Linked DNA regions of Homo sapiens: region 1 is linked to region 2. Evidence: fine-mapped expression QTL. A gene starts in region 2. The other region holds a variant in brackets. All regions are shown on one strand. Distances are between the middles of the regions.

Region 1 (5,383 bases), 30 kb before region 2:
GTACTACTTTACATTCCCTCCAATAGTATATGAGAGTTCTCTTTTTTCCGCATACTCGCCAGCATCTGTTCTTTTTTGCCTTTTTGATAACAGCCATTCTAACTGGGGTAAGATGATATCTCATTGTGGTTTTGATTTGCCTTTCCCTAATAATTAGTGATGTTGAACATTTTTTCACATATCTGTTAATCATTTTTATGTCTGGATATGTAGATCCTTTGCCCACTTTTTAATGGGGCTATGTAGGGTTTTTTGCTGTTGAGTTGTTGGAATTGTGTATTATGGATATTAGTCCCTTGTCACCAGACAGATATTTTGCAAATATTTTCTCCCATTCAACGGGTTCTCTCTTCACTTTGTTGTTTCATTTGCTGTGCAGAAGCTTTTTAGCTTAACATAATCCCATTTGTCTATTTTTGGTTTTGCAGCCTGTGCTTTTAGGGTCTTAGCCATAAAATCTTTGCCTAGACCAATATGCTAGAGTGTTTCCCCTATGTTTCTTCCCAGTAGTTTTACAGTTCTGGGTCTCACATTTAAGTCTTTAATCCATTTTGAGTTGATTTTTGTATATGATGACAGACAGGGGCTCTAGTTTCATTCTTCTGTGTATGAGTATCCAGTTTTCCCAGGACCATTTGTTGAACAAGATATCCTTTCCCCAATGTGTGTCCTTGGCACCTCTGTCAAAAATCAATTGGCTATTAATACGTGGGTTTATTTCTGAGTTCTCTGTTCTGTCCCATTAGTCTATGTGACTGTCTGTTTTTATACCAATACCATGCTGTCTGTTGTTTTGGTTACTAGAATTTTATATACATATATATATATATGTATATATTTAAAACCCACATATATATGTACATATATACATATGTGTATGTGTGTGTATATGTATATATGTACGTGTGTGTGTGTATATATATACATACATATATATATACATACATATATATATATATATATATATACACACATACATATATATATGTATATATATATATATATATTTGTGGGTTTTTAGAGACAGGATCTCGCTTTGTTGCCCAGGCTGGAGTGTAGTGGTCCAATCTTAGCTCACTGCAGCCTCAACCTCCTGGGCTTAAACAATCCTCCTGCCTCAGCCTACCAAATAGCTGGGACCACAGATACATACCATCACCCTTGTCTAATTTTTAAAATTTTTTGTAGAGATGAGGTCTCACTAAGTTGCTCAGGCATGAGCCACTGTGTCCAGACTATCATATATTTTGAAGTCAGGAAGTGTGATGCCTCCTGCTTTATTCTTTTTGTTCAAATTGCTTTGGTTATTGGAGTCTTTGTGGTTCCATAAAAATTTTAGAGGTGGGGTACAGTGGATCATGCCTGTAATCTCAACACTTTGGGAGGTCAAGACGGAAGGATTGCAGGAGGGTCACATGAGGCCAGGAGTTAAAGACCAGCCTGGGCAATATAGCAAGATCCTGTCTCTGCAAAAAATTTAAAGAATTATTCAGGCATGGCAGCATGCACCTATAGTCCCAGCTACTCAGCAGGCTGAGGTGGGAGAACTGCTTAAGCCCAGGAGGTTGAGGCTGTTCCTTCTATGCCTAACTTGTTGGGCATTTTTATCATGAAGGGATACTGAATTTTATATTCCAAAAGCATTTGTGGAAACAAAGGTTGTTGAATTTTATAAGTTGCTTTTTCTCTGCCTATTGAGATAATCACACGGTTTTTGTCCTCCATTCTGTTGACATGATGTATCATTTTATTGATTTGCATTTGTTGAACCATCCTTGCATCCCTGGGATAAATCCCACTTGATCATGAAGTATCTTCTTGATGTGCTGTTGAATTTGTTTTGCTAATATTATGTTGAGGATTTCTGCATCTATGTTCACTGGGGATATTGACCTGTAGTTTTCTTTTTTTGTTATGTCTCTGCCTAGTTTTGGTATCAGGGTAATGCTGGCTTCATAGAATTATGAAGAATTCTATGAATTAGAGAGAGTTTCTGCGTCTTCTATTTCTTGGACTAGTTTGAGAAGAACCAGTATTAGTTCCTGCTTATTAGTCCGGTAGAATTTGACAGTAAAGCCATCAGGTCCTAGGCTTTTTTGGTTGAGAGACTTTTTATTATTGATTCAATCTTGTGACTTGTTATTGGTCTGTTCAGGTTTTCCATTTCTTCCTTATTCAATCTTGGTAGGTTTTATGTGTCCACGGATTCATCAATTTCCTCTAGGTTTTCCTGTTTGTTCATGTATAGTTCATGTTCTCTGATATCTTTTGCATTTCTGTGATATCAGTTGTAAGGTCTCCTTTTCATTCCTGCTTTTGGCTCTTCTTTTTTTCTTGGTTAGTCTAGCTAGTGGTTTATTGATTTTGTTTATCTTCTCATTAAACCAACTTTTCATTTCTTTTTTTTTATTTCTTAGTCTCTATTTTGTTTATTTCTGCTCTGAT[CTTCA/C]TTATTTCCTTCCTTCTACTAATTTTGGGTTTGGTTTGTCCTTGCCTTTCTAGTTCCTTAAGGTCCATCATTAGGTTATTTGAAATCTTTCTACTTTTTTTGATGTAGGTGTTTATTGCTCTAAACTTCCCTCTTAGCACTGCTTTTGCTGTATCCCATAGGTTTTGGTATGTTTTTTCCATTTAAATTTAAGAAATTTTTTTTCTTCTTTTTGGAGACAGGGTCTAACTCTGTCACCCAGGTGGAGCAAAGTGGCACAATCATGGCTCACTGCTACTTCAAACACCTGGGCTCAAGAGATCCTCTTGTCTCAGCCTCCTGAGTAGTTAGGACTACAGGCATGTGCCACCACACCTGGCTAATTATTTTTGTAGAGACAGGGTCTCAATATGTTGTCCAGACTCATCTTGAACTCCTGGTCTCAAGTGATCCTCCTGCCTCAGCCTCCCAAAGTGTTTCAAGAAATTTATCTCTTCTTTTTTCATTGATCCAATGGTCACTCAGGTGCATGTTGTTTAATTTCCATGTATTTGTATAGTTTCTAAGTTCCTCTTGTTATGGATTTGTTTTATTCAATTGTGGTCTGAGAAGATACTTGATATGATTTTGATTTTTAAAAATGTGTTGAGGTTTCGTGGTCTGACATATGGTCTATCCTAGAGAATGTTCCATGTGTTGATGGGAATGTGTATTTTGCAGTTGGTAGATGAAATGTTCTGTAAATGTGAGATCCATTTGATCTAAAGCATAGTTTAAATCCAGTGTTTTTTGTTGATTTTTCTGTTAAGATAATCTGTCTATTGTTGAGAGTGGGGTGTTGAAGTCCCCAACTATTATTGTATTAGAGTCTACCTCTCTCTTTAGGTCTAATATTTGCTTTGGGTGAACTGGTGTTGGGTGTATATATATTTAGAATTGTTATATCCTATTGCTGAATGGATCCCTTTATCATTATATAATGACCTTCTTTGTCTCTTTTTACTGGTTTTGACTTAAAGTCTGTTTTACCTGATACAAGTAAAGCTATTCCTGCTCACCTTTGGTTTCCATTTGCACGGAGTATTTTTTTCCATCCCTTTACTTTCAGTCTATAGTTATCTTTACAAGTAAAGTGAGTTTCTTGTAGGCAGCATATAGTTGGGTCAAGTTTTCTTATCTATTCTGACAGTCTGTTATTGTTGTTGTTATTTGGTAGAGATGAGGTCTCACTATGTTGCCCAGGCTGGTCTCAAACTCCCAGGCTCAAGCAATCCTTCCCACCTTGGCCTCCTGAAGTACTGGGACTAAAAGAATGCGTCCACATGACTGGACCAGTCCATATCCTTTAAGTGGAAAATTTAATCTGTTTACATTCAAGGTTATTATTGATATGTGAGAACTTACTACTGTCATTTTGTTAACTGCCTTCTGGTTATTTTCATATCTTTTGTTCCTTTCTTATTGTTATGGTTTGATGATAAAATGAGTGAGTCCTTACTCTTTCTCATCTGTGTGCTTGCTCTATTAGTTAGTTGTATACTTTCACGAGTTTTCATGATGGTAGATATTATCCTTTCACTTCCGAATGTAGGACTCCCTTAATCTTTTATTGTAGGACTGGTTTAGTGGTTATGAATTATCTGTTTTTCCCTGTCTGGGAAAGTCTTCATTTCTCCTTTATTTATGAAAGATAACTTCACTAGGTACAGTATCCTTAACTGGCAGGTTTGTTTTTTCCCTTCAGCACTTTGAATATATCATCTCATTCTCTCCTGGCTTGCAAGGTTTCTGCTGAGAAATCTGCTGTTAGTCTGATCAGGATTCCTTTAGATGTGAACAGATGCTTTTCTCTTGCTGTGTTTAGAATTCTTTTTGTCTTTACTTCTGACAGTTTGACTATCATGTGCCAAGGAGATCTTTGTGGGTTGTATCTGTTTGGGAATCTCTGAGCTTCCTGTATCTGTATGTCTAAATCTCTTCTTAAATTTGGGAAGTTTAAAGCTATTATTTTGTTTAATCAGTTTTCTATGCCATTAAACTTCTCTTCACCTTCTGGGATACCCAAGACTCAGATTTTTGGTCACTTTATGGTATCCTATATGTCACAATGCCTTTTTTTTTTTTTTTAATCTAACTGGGTTATTTTTAAAGACCTGTCTTCAAGTTCTGAAATTATTTTTTTTGGAGACAGGGTCTCATTGTCACTCAGGCTGGAGTGCAGTGGCACGATCACAATTCACTGCACCCTCAGCCTCACAGGTTCAAGCAATCCTCCCACTTCAGCCTCCTGCGTAGCTGCGACTACAGGCATGCACCACCATGCCCGGCCTTTTTTTTTTTTTTGTAAAGTCAGGGCTTCACTATGTTGCCCATCTAACTCCTGGACTCAAGCGATCTGCTTGTTTCAGCCTCCCAAAATGCTGGAATTACAGCCATGAACCACTGCACCCAGCCCGAGTTCTGAAATTCTTTCTTCTGCTTTATCATCTAGTTTATCGCTAAAGCTCTCAATTGCCTTTTTTATTTCATTCACTAAGTTCTTCAGTTCTAGGATTTTTGTTTGGTTCTTTTTTATGCTATCTCTTTGGTGAATTTCTCATTCATATCCTAAATTGTTTTTCTGATTTCTTTGTGTTGTTTATCTGTGTTCCCATGCATATCACTAAGCCTCTTTAGTATCATGATTTTGAATTTTCAGGCAGATCATAAATTTTTCACTGAAGTCTGTTATTGGAGAATTATTGTGTTCTTTTGGAGATACCATATTTCCTTGCCTTTTCATGTTTCTTGAGTCCTTTTGTTGATAACTGTATATCAAGTGTAACAGTCACTTCCAATTTTTTGTATTGGCTTTCACAGGGAAAGATTTTTTCTTACAGATGTATCTACAGTGTTGGTTGGGTAGGGCACTTTGGCTTTGATTCTGGATGCATGCGGCAGTGTAGTCTCCATACG
Region 2 (5,383 bases):
TTCTGAAGAAGCAATTCAAAAACTTCTGTCCAACTATGTACCTGTCATCTACATCCAGCAAACGACACAGGCTGCCAACCCCTAACTCCTATCCACGGCCAGCATACAGGGAGATCAGCATTGCCTGGGCTGGATACCAATACTGACTAATACCAAGAAACAGCCACAGACATACACACAGCTGCAAAACTAAGGTGCAGCCCACCCAAGAAAAGGCTTTTGCAGAACCACATGCATCTGAAGGACTTCATCGTTCTCATTCACTTCCATCCATTCCTATTTCTAGTTGTTTTGTAGTTGTATTTCAGGGAGCAGGGGGCAGAAAGGAGGTGTGTGGGCCAGAGACATGTTCAAGAGATTATGAAATGGAGCCTAAGTTAGAAAGTACATCCAGCAATTTCTCTAGCCTCCCAAGAGGGAACGAGTGAGTATGCATGTGTGCATGTATGGGTGTGTATGAATCTTACCCAACACATTTCTGCCTACCACAAAAGGATTTAAAACTCAAGGTGACTCAACAGCTGTCATCAATAGCCTGACAGGTGGGTGGGAGAAGCAGAAAAGAAATGAATAGCTTTTGAAAAATGGAGTAATAAACACCACTGGACTAACAAGCTGATTAGAAGTGCCATGTCTAATAAATCTTGCGTCTAAGAGAAAGGCAGAGTTAATTTCATTTGAACTCCTAACCAGTCATTCCTCTGAAACCTATAATTGCCTAAGGGCACAAATCACTGCTAGGGTCCAGTTAAAGGCTTGCTGACCAAACGCAAGAACAACAACACATCACCAAGATCCGAATAGTTTGTTACTGAATCAAAGGGTAACAACCCAGGGAGAGAACACACACCCCCACAATACTTGACAAATGAAAATCTAGAGAAGCTCACAATAGTTCTGGCATTTAGGGCGTTACAAGTACACCCAAAATAAAAGCACTCTCTGTTGCAGCAGCTGTTCAGACAGAGCAGGGGGTAATGTTTACTTAATACTTCAGGTTGATGGGGGATGTATCACAGTTCAGTCTGTCAACTACATACGTGGAACTCCATTTATGTACACAGCGATAAGATATGTTTGAACAACGATGGAGCACGTCTGAAACAATCTATTCAGTTGGTATGAGTAATCGAGAATAAAGCTCTTTTTTAAAAAGTCTCAGATATTTGGGAAAGTTACAGAACAGACTGCCATGAATAGCTTTGCTTATATTTGCAGACACTGTTTTCCAAATAGCTGGAAAAATGAACAGATTGTTCTGGGAGGTCGTCTTTCCAATTTGTTCCTAGTTTTCAGTCTGTTAATCACAGGAGAGAGCACAAGGAGAGTCAGCTAATGCTCTTCACTAACTGCAACTACTGTCAGTTGGACACAACCACTATGAGACCAGAAGCCAAAGAGTTCCTGGAATCCCGCCAGAGGTTATCAATTTTGACTTCCTTCATTTCACCTTTGTGCTCACTGCAGCCACTACAGGACCCTCTGTGGGGCATAATTTTCAAAATCGTGGATGAGGCAGGTTTCACATTATAATGGACACATCGTGCTCAACCCCATCCCCTCTTCATTCTGCACCAACTTTCTATCTCGGTGGAGAGACCAAACATCAGAGACAGCAACTAAAGACTAGGCTGCAGAGGTCGAAGGTGGAAGAAGGACGGCAGCGCCCCGAACCCCGGCTGTCTGCCTGGCTCTCAGGGGATGGAGGGAGCTGCATGACTAGGCCCAGGCCCGAGAGAAGCGGGGTTCAGCCTGGGACCCAAGCTGCGCACCTGCAAGGACAGAAGCAGCTGGCTGCCCTGGCCGAGCCAGGGGCGCCACCTCCGGACCCAACATCCGGCCAGCGCAGCCGCTGACATCGCCCGTCCCGCTTGCCCCTCCCCTGAGCCCATGGTCCTCGGCCTGGCAGCCAGCCGCCCCCGGCCACCTACCGGGGCTCAGGGCCACATAGCGGGGCCCCGGCTCTCGGCGGCCTCCGCCTCCTCCTGGTCCATGGGCTCGGGGACCCCCAACCTTCGCTCCCCTCACCCGGAGGAGGAGGAGGAAGAGGAAGAAGGTAGTGCGGGCTCCCCACCCGGACAGCTACCTCTCGCCTCAGCCTCCCTGGACAGCGACGGCGGCCGGAAACACCGCCTCCTCCCACCTCCCCGGGACCGACCCGGAAACACACTCTCCATGCTAACCAAGCCCTCCCGCCCCTCCCCCGGGAAGGGCAATGCCGGCCGCGAGACCAAGGGGGAGGAGGGGCAGTGCTGGGCGGGTAAAACTACGCACAAGCGAAGGAATCTGGGCCCCCAGCCTCTCGCCGCCCGCTCTCCAGAGGCAGTCTGCACCTTGCCTCCTTCGCTCGAGCCCCAGCCCCCAGACTCGGGCAATACCCACAAGCAAGATGGCGGCAACGGCGGCACCCCCTACTGCTTAGCACCCTGACTTGCCATTGGCCAGAGCCCGGAGTGAAGCAGCCGCGGATTCGTCAAGAGCGGTGCGGGGGTGGGGGTGGAGCTGCAGCAGCCTGGAGCCAGGAGTGGGCAACGCGGCGTGAGCAGCGGCCCGAGGCTCCCGGAGCATCGCGCTGGGAGAAGACTTCGCCGCTCGGGGCCGCAGCCTGGTGAGCTCAGCCCCCTTCGGGCCCTCCCCTGCATCCCAGCCGGGGCCTCTCCGAGCCGGCGCTGATCGATGCCGACACACCCCGGGGACCCTATCGCGACTCCATCGCGCCATATCGCGACACCATCGTGCCCTGTCGAGACTCCATTTTGTCACAGCCCTTTTCAATATATATCTTTTTTTTTTTTAATTTGCCCTGTCATCTTTGGGGGCTGTCTCCCATGTCGTGATTTTGACGTGATCTCTCCGTGACATCACCGCGCCATCGTGAAGTGTGATCTCATCGCCGCCCTGTCGTGACTTCATCAATGTCGTGTTGTGACCTGGCTGCGGCGGGACAGGTGGTGACCGCCAGGAACCCTCCTCCCCTTCTCATCTCCCCATCTCAGCAGCCCTGCTTCGATTATCCGGCTTTTGGATTCTCCGTTGTCCTGGGAACTATCCGGGACCCCCTCTTGCTTCTCCAGCCCCTGCCGGCATCCACAGGCTGGTAGCGGGACGGGGAGGGCGAGAAGAGGGAGCGCAAGGGGTTAATTCTGCTGCTGCCGCCGCCGCTGCTGCTGCTGCTGCAGCCTCTACCCGAGGGAGGGAAAGGAGAGGAGGCAAGGAGCCTGCGGGGGCGACTGAGAGCCCTGGCTGGAGGGGTGGGGTCCCCAAAGGGGCCTCCAAGCCTTCCCTGTTGAGCGTCTTGTATTCTCACTTCTGAAGCGTATCTCTGCCTCTGAAGAAGGGAGGGGAAAGGAAGCCTGGGGTGTCCTTTTCTCCCATGTCAGCCTGAGTCCGGATAATCGAACTTCACCCATGTATGTCTCCATTTCTCCCTGTCTGTCCTCACCACTCACTCCCTCTGTGTCCCTGTGGAGGGAGATAAAACCCAGCCTCCGGTGCCAGGGGGACAGCTGAGCAGTGGGGCCAGCTCCCGCCCACCCCCAGGAGACTGGTGAGGAGAGCTGTCCGGCTGAGCAGCAGCATGCATGGTCCTTCTTTCCCGCTTTCTGGAGGTGACCTTGGACCAGGGTCCCTTCTTTATCCCTAAGGATTTGCAGATCCAGCCCCTTAAAGGGGCTTCTGGGGGGAGGTCAGTCCTGAGGAGTCCACCCCTCCAGATTCTCTCCTCCCCTCCCTCTGTGCTAATCCCTCCCTCCCTCCATCCTCCACTCTCACCCCCACCCCACCCCCGTCCCTCCTCTGCAGAGGGATGCTCAGTCCCTCTTGTGTTCACAGTTGGGCAAGGCGAGCATCATGGCCTCGGATTGCGAGCCAGCTCTGAACCAGGCAGAGGGCCGAAACCCCACCCTGGAGCGCTACCTGGGAGCCCTCCGTGAGGCCAAGAATGACAGCGAGCAGTTTGCAGCCCTGCTGCTAGTAAGGAACTGGCTGAAAATTGGGAGGTGGGAAGGGCTGGGTGGTTGGGCCCCCAAGGAATGGGGTCAGTGAGTCCCCAAGGATATGTACGTAGTGCTAGCAACCCTGGAGGCACCAACGAAGGCCCAAGACCCCTACCTTTGTGCTCTTTTTTGCTCCCCCTGAGAATGGGGGCAAAGAGGAGAATGGGACTGAATAAGGCTGTGGCACTAGGGGCTGCCTGGGTCTGTTTTCTGGGGCGTCCCAGAGCAGATGGAAGCTGACTCATAGGGTAACAGCAGCAGGTAGTAACTAGTGCAGAGTACTTGAGGGCTGGGGATGGTTGTTCTGGGCCTGGAGAGAGTAGCAGGGCTGGAAGTGGCTGGGGAGGGGTCCTAGGGGAAGGCCAGGATGGCAGTAGGTAGGTTAAGGAATGGGAGCTAGTTTGGGGCTTAGCCTTTTTGGAGGAACCCAAGCTGGGGACAGCAGAGCAGAAGCTGCAGTGCTAGGAAGGGGGGGTTGTGTGTGGGGGGTGAAGGGAGGAGGGAGTACAGCCGCTGCTTGTTTGCCATGGCAACAAGGAGAAGGCTCTGGAGTCAAGGGCTCACACTGCAGCAGAGGAGGTGTTTAGGTGAAATGTAAGGGGAAATGTTTTGACAGGCGGAGCGGCGAGACACAGGAGCCATTTCCCCTGAGAAGGTGGCAGAAATGGATCAGGGACTTCTCTGGAGGGAGCAATTAAGGAAGGACTTTAAATCCTTGGGAGATCTTAAAACATTGAGTTCTAAGCCCCTTCCATCCCAGGTTGTGGGCATTTAGACATCAGGAAGAACTTCTCAACTGGCCAGGTGTTGAAATGCTCAAATGAATGGTTGAGGAAGACTAGACCTCACTTCCATGGGACAGTCACAGATGAGAGGGATCCCAGAGGTCACATTTATCTGCCTCTAAGGAGAAAAAAGGAGCTGGATGAAATGACCTCAGATGAGTCCTGTTGCATAACCTCATCTTGCTAGTCCTCAGTGCCCCAGGATGCAGGAGAGGGACAGTCTTTCCCACTTCTTCCTTTCATCCTGATGATAGCACATACCCCCTATAGGTGACCAAGGCAGTCAAAGCAGGTGACATAGATGCCAAAACTCGGCGGCGGATCTTCGATGCTGTCGGCTTCACCTTCCCCAATCGTCTCCTGACCACCAAGGAGGCGCCGGATGGCTGCCCTGACCATGTTCTGCGGGCTTTGGGTGTGGCCCTGCTGGCCTGCTTCTGCAGTGACCCTGAACTGGCCGCCCATCCCCAAGTCCTGAACAAGATTCCCATTCTTAGCACCTTCCTCACAGCCCGGGGGGACCCGGACGATGCTGCCCGCCGCTCCATGATTGATGACACCTACCAGTGCCTGACGGCTGTAGCAGGCACACCCAGAGGGCCT

Direction of the effects. Positions count from the first base shown, and alleles are read on the strand shown. Sizes are in standard deviations (SD) of each study's normalised expression.
For the expression in skeletal muscle of the gene that starts at base 2,128 in region 2, allele C in region 1 goes with a lower level than allele CTTCA (small effect, 0.40 SD a copy in GTEx).

Evidence for each region. PIP is the estimated chance that this variant, and not a neighbour inherited with it, causes the effect.
Region 1: its variant is the best candidate, but not a certain one, in a credible set for the expression of KIAA0319L in skeletal muscle (GTEx, PIP 0.70).

Annotation. Positions count from the first base shown.
Region 1 is chr1:35,525,444-35,530,826 of GRCh38, forward strand. The region is part of intron 2 of KIAA0319L (KIAA0319 like); the gene reads right to left. Among named protein-coding and RNA genes, the nearest start is that of KIAA0319L, 29 kb to the right of the region's middle. The variant CTTCA/C (reference allele first, on the strand shown) is at 2,446.
Region 2 is chr1:35,555,276-35,560,658 of GRCh38, forward strand. It overlaps KIAA0319L (KIAA0319 like), which reads right to left and starts at 2,128. Exons shown (of 21, transcript NM_024874.5): 1 at 1,932-2,128. NCDN (neurochondrin) reads left to right here and starts at 2,524. Exons shown (of 7, transcript NM_014284.3): 1 at 2,524-2,948; 2 at 3,832-3,972; 3 at 5,051-5,383. The coding sequence starts at 2,916. RefSeq lists enhancers at 1-757, 1,558-2,285, 2,286-3,012, 2,302-2,361, 3,740-4,465 and 1 more and silencers at 1,822-1,921, 1,932-2,071, 3,143-3,352.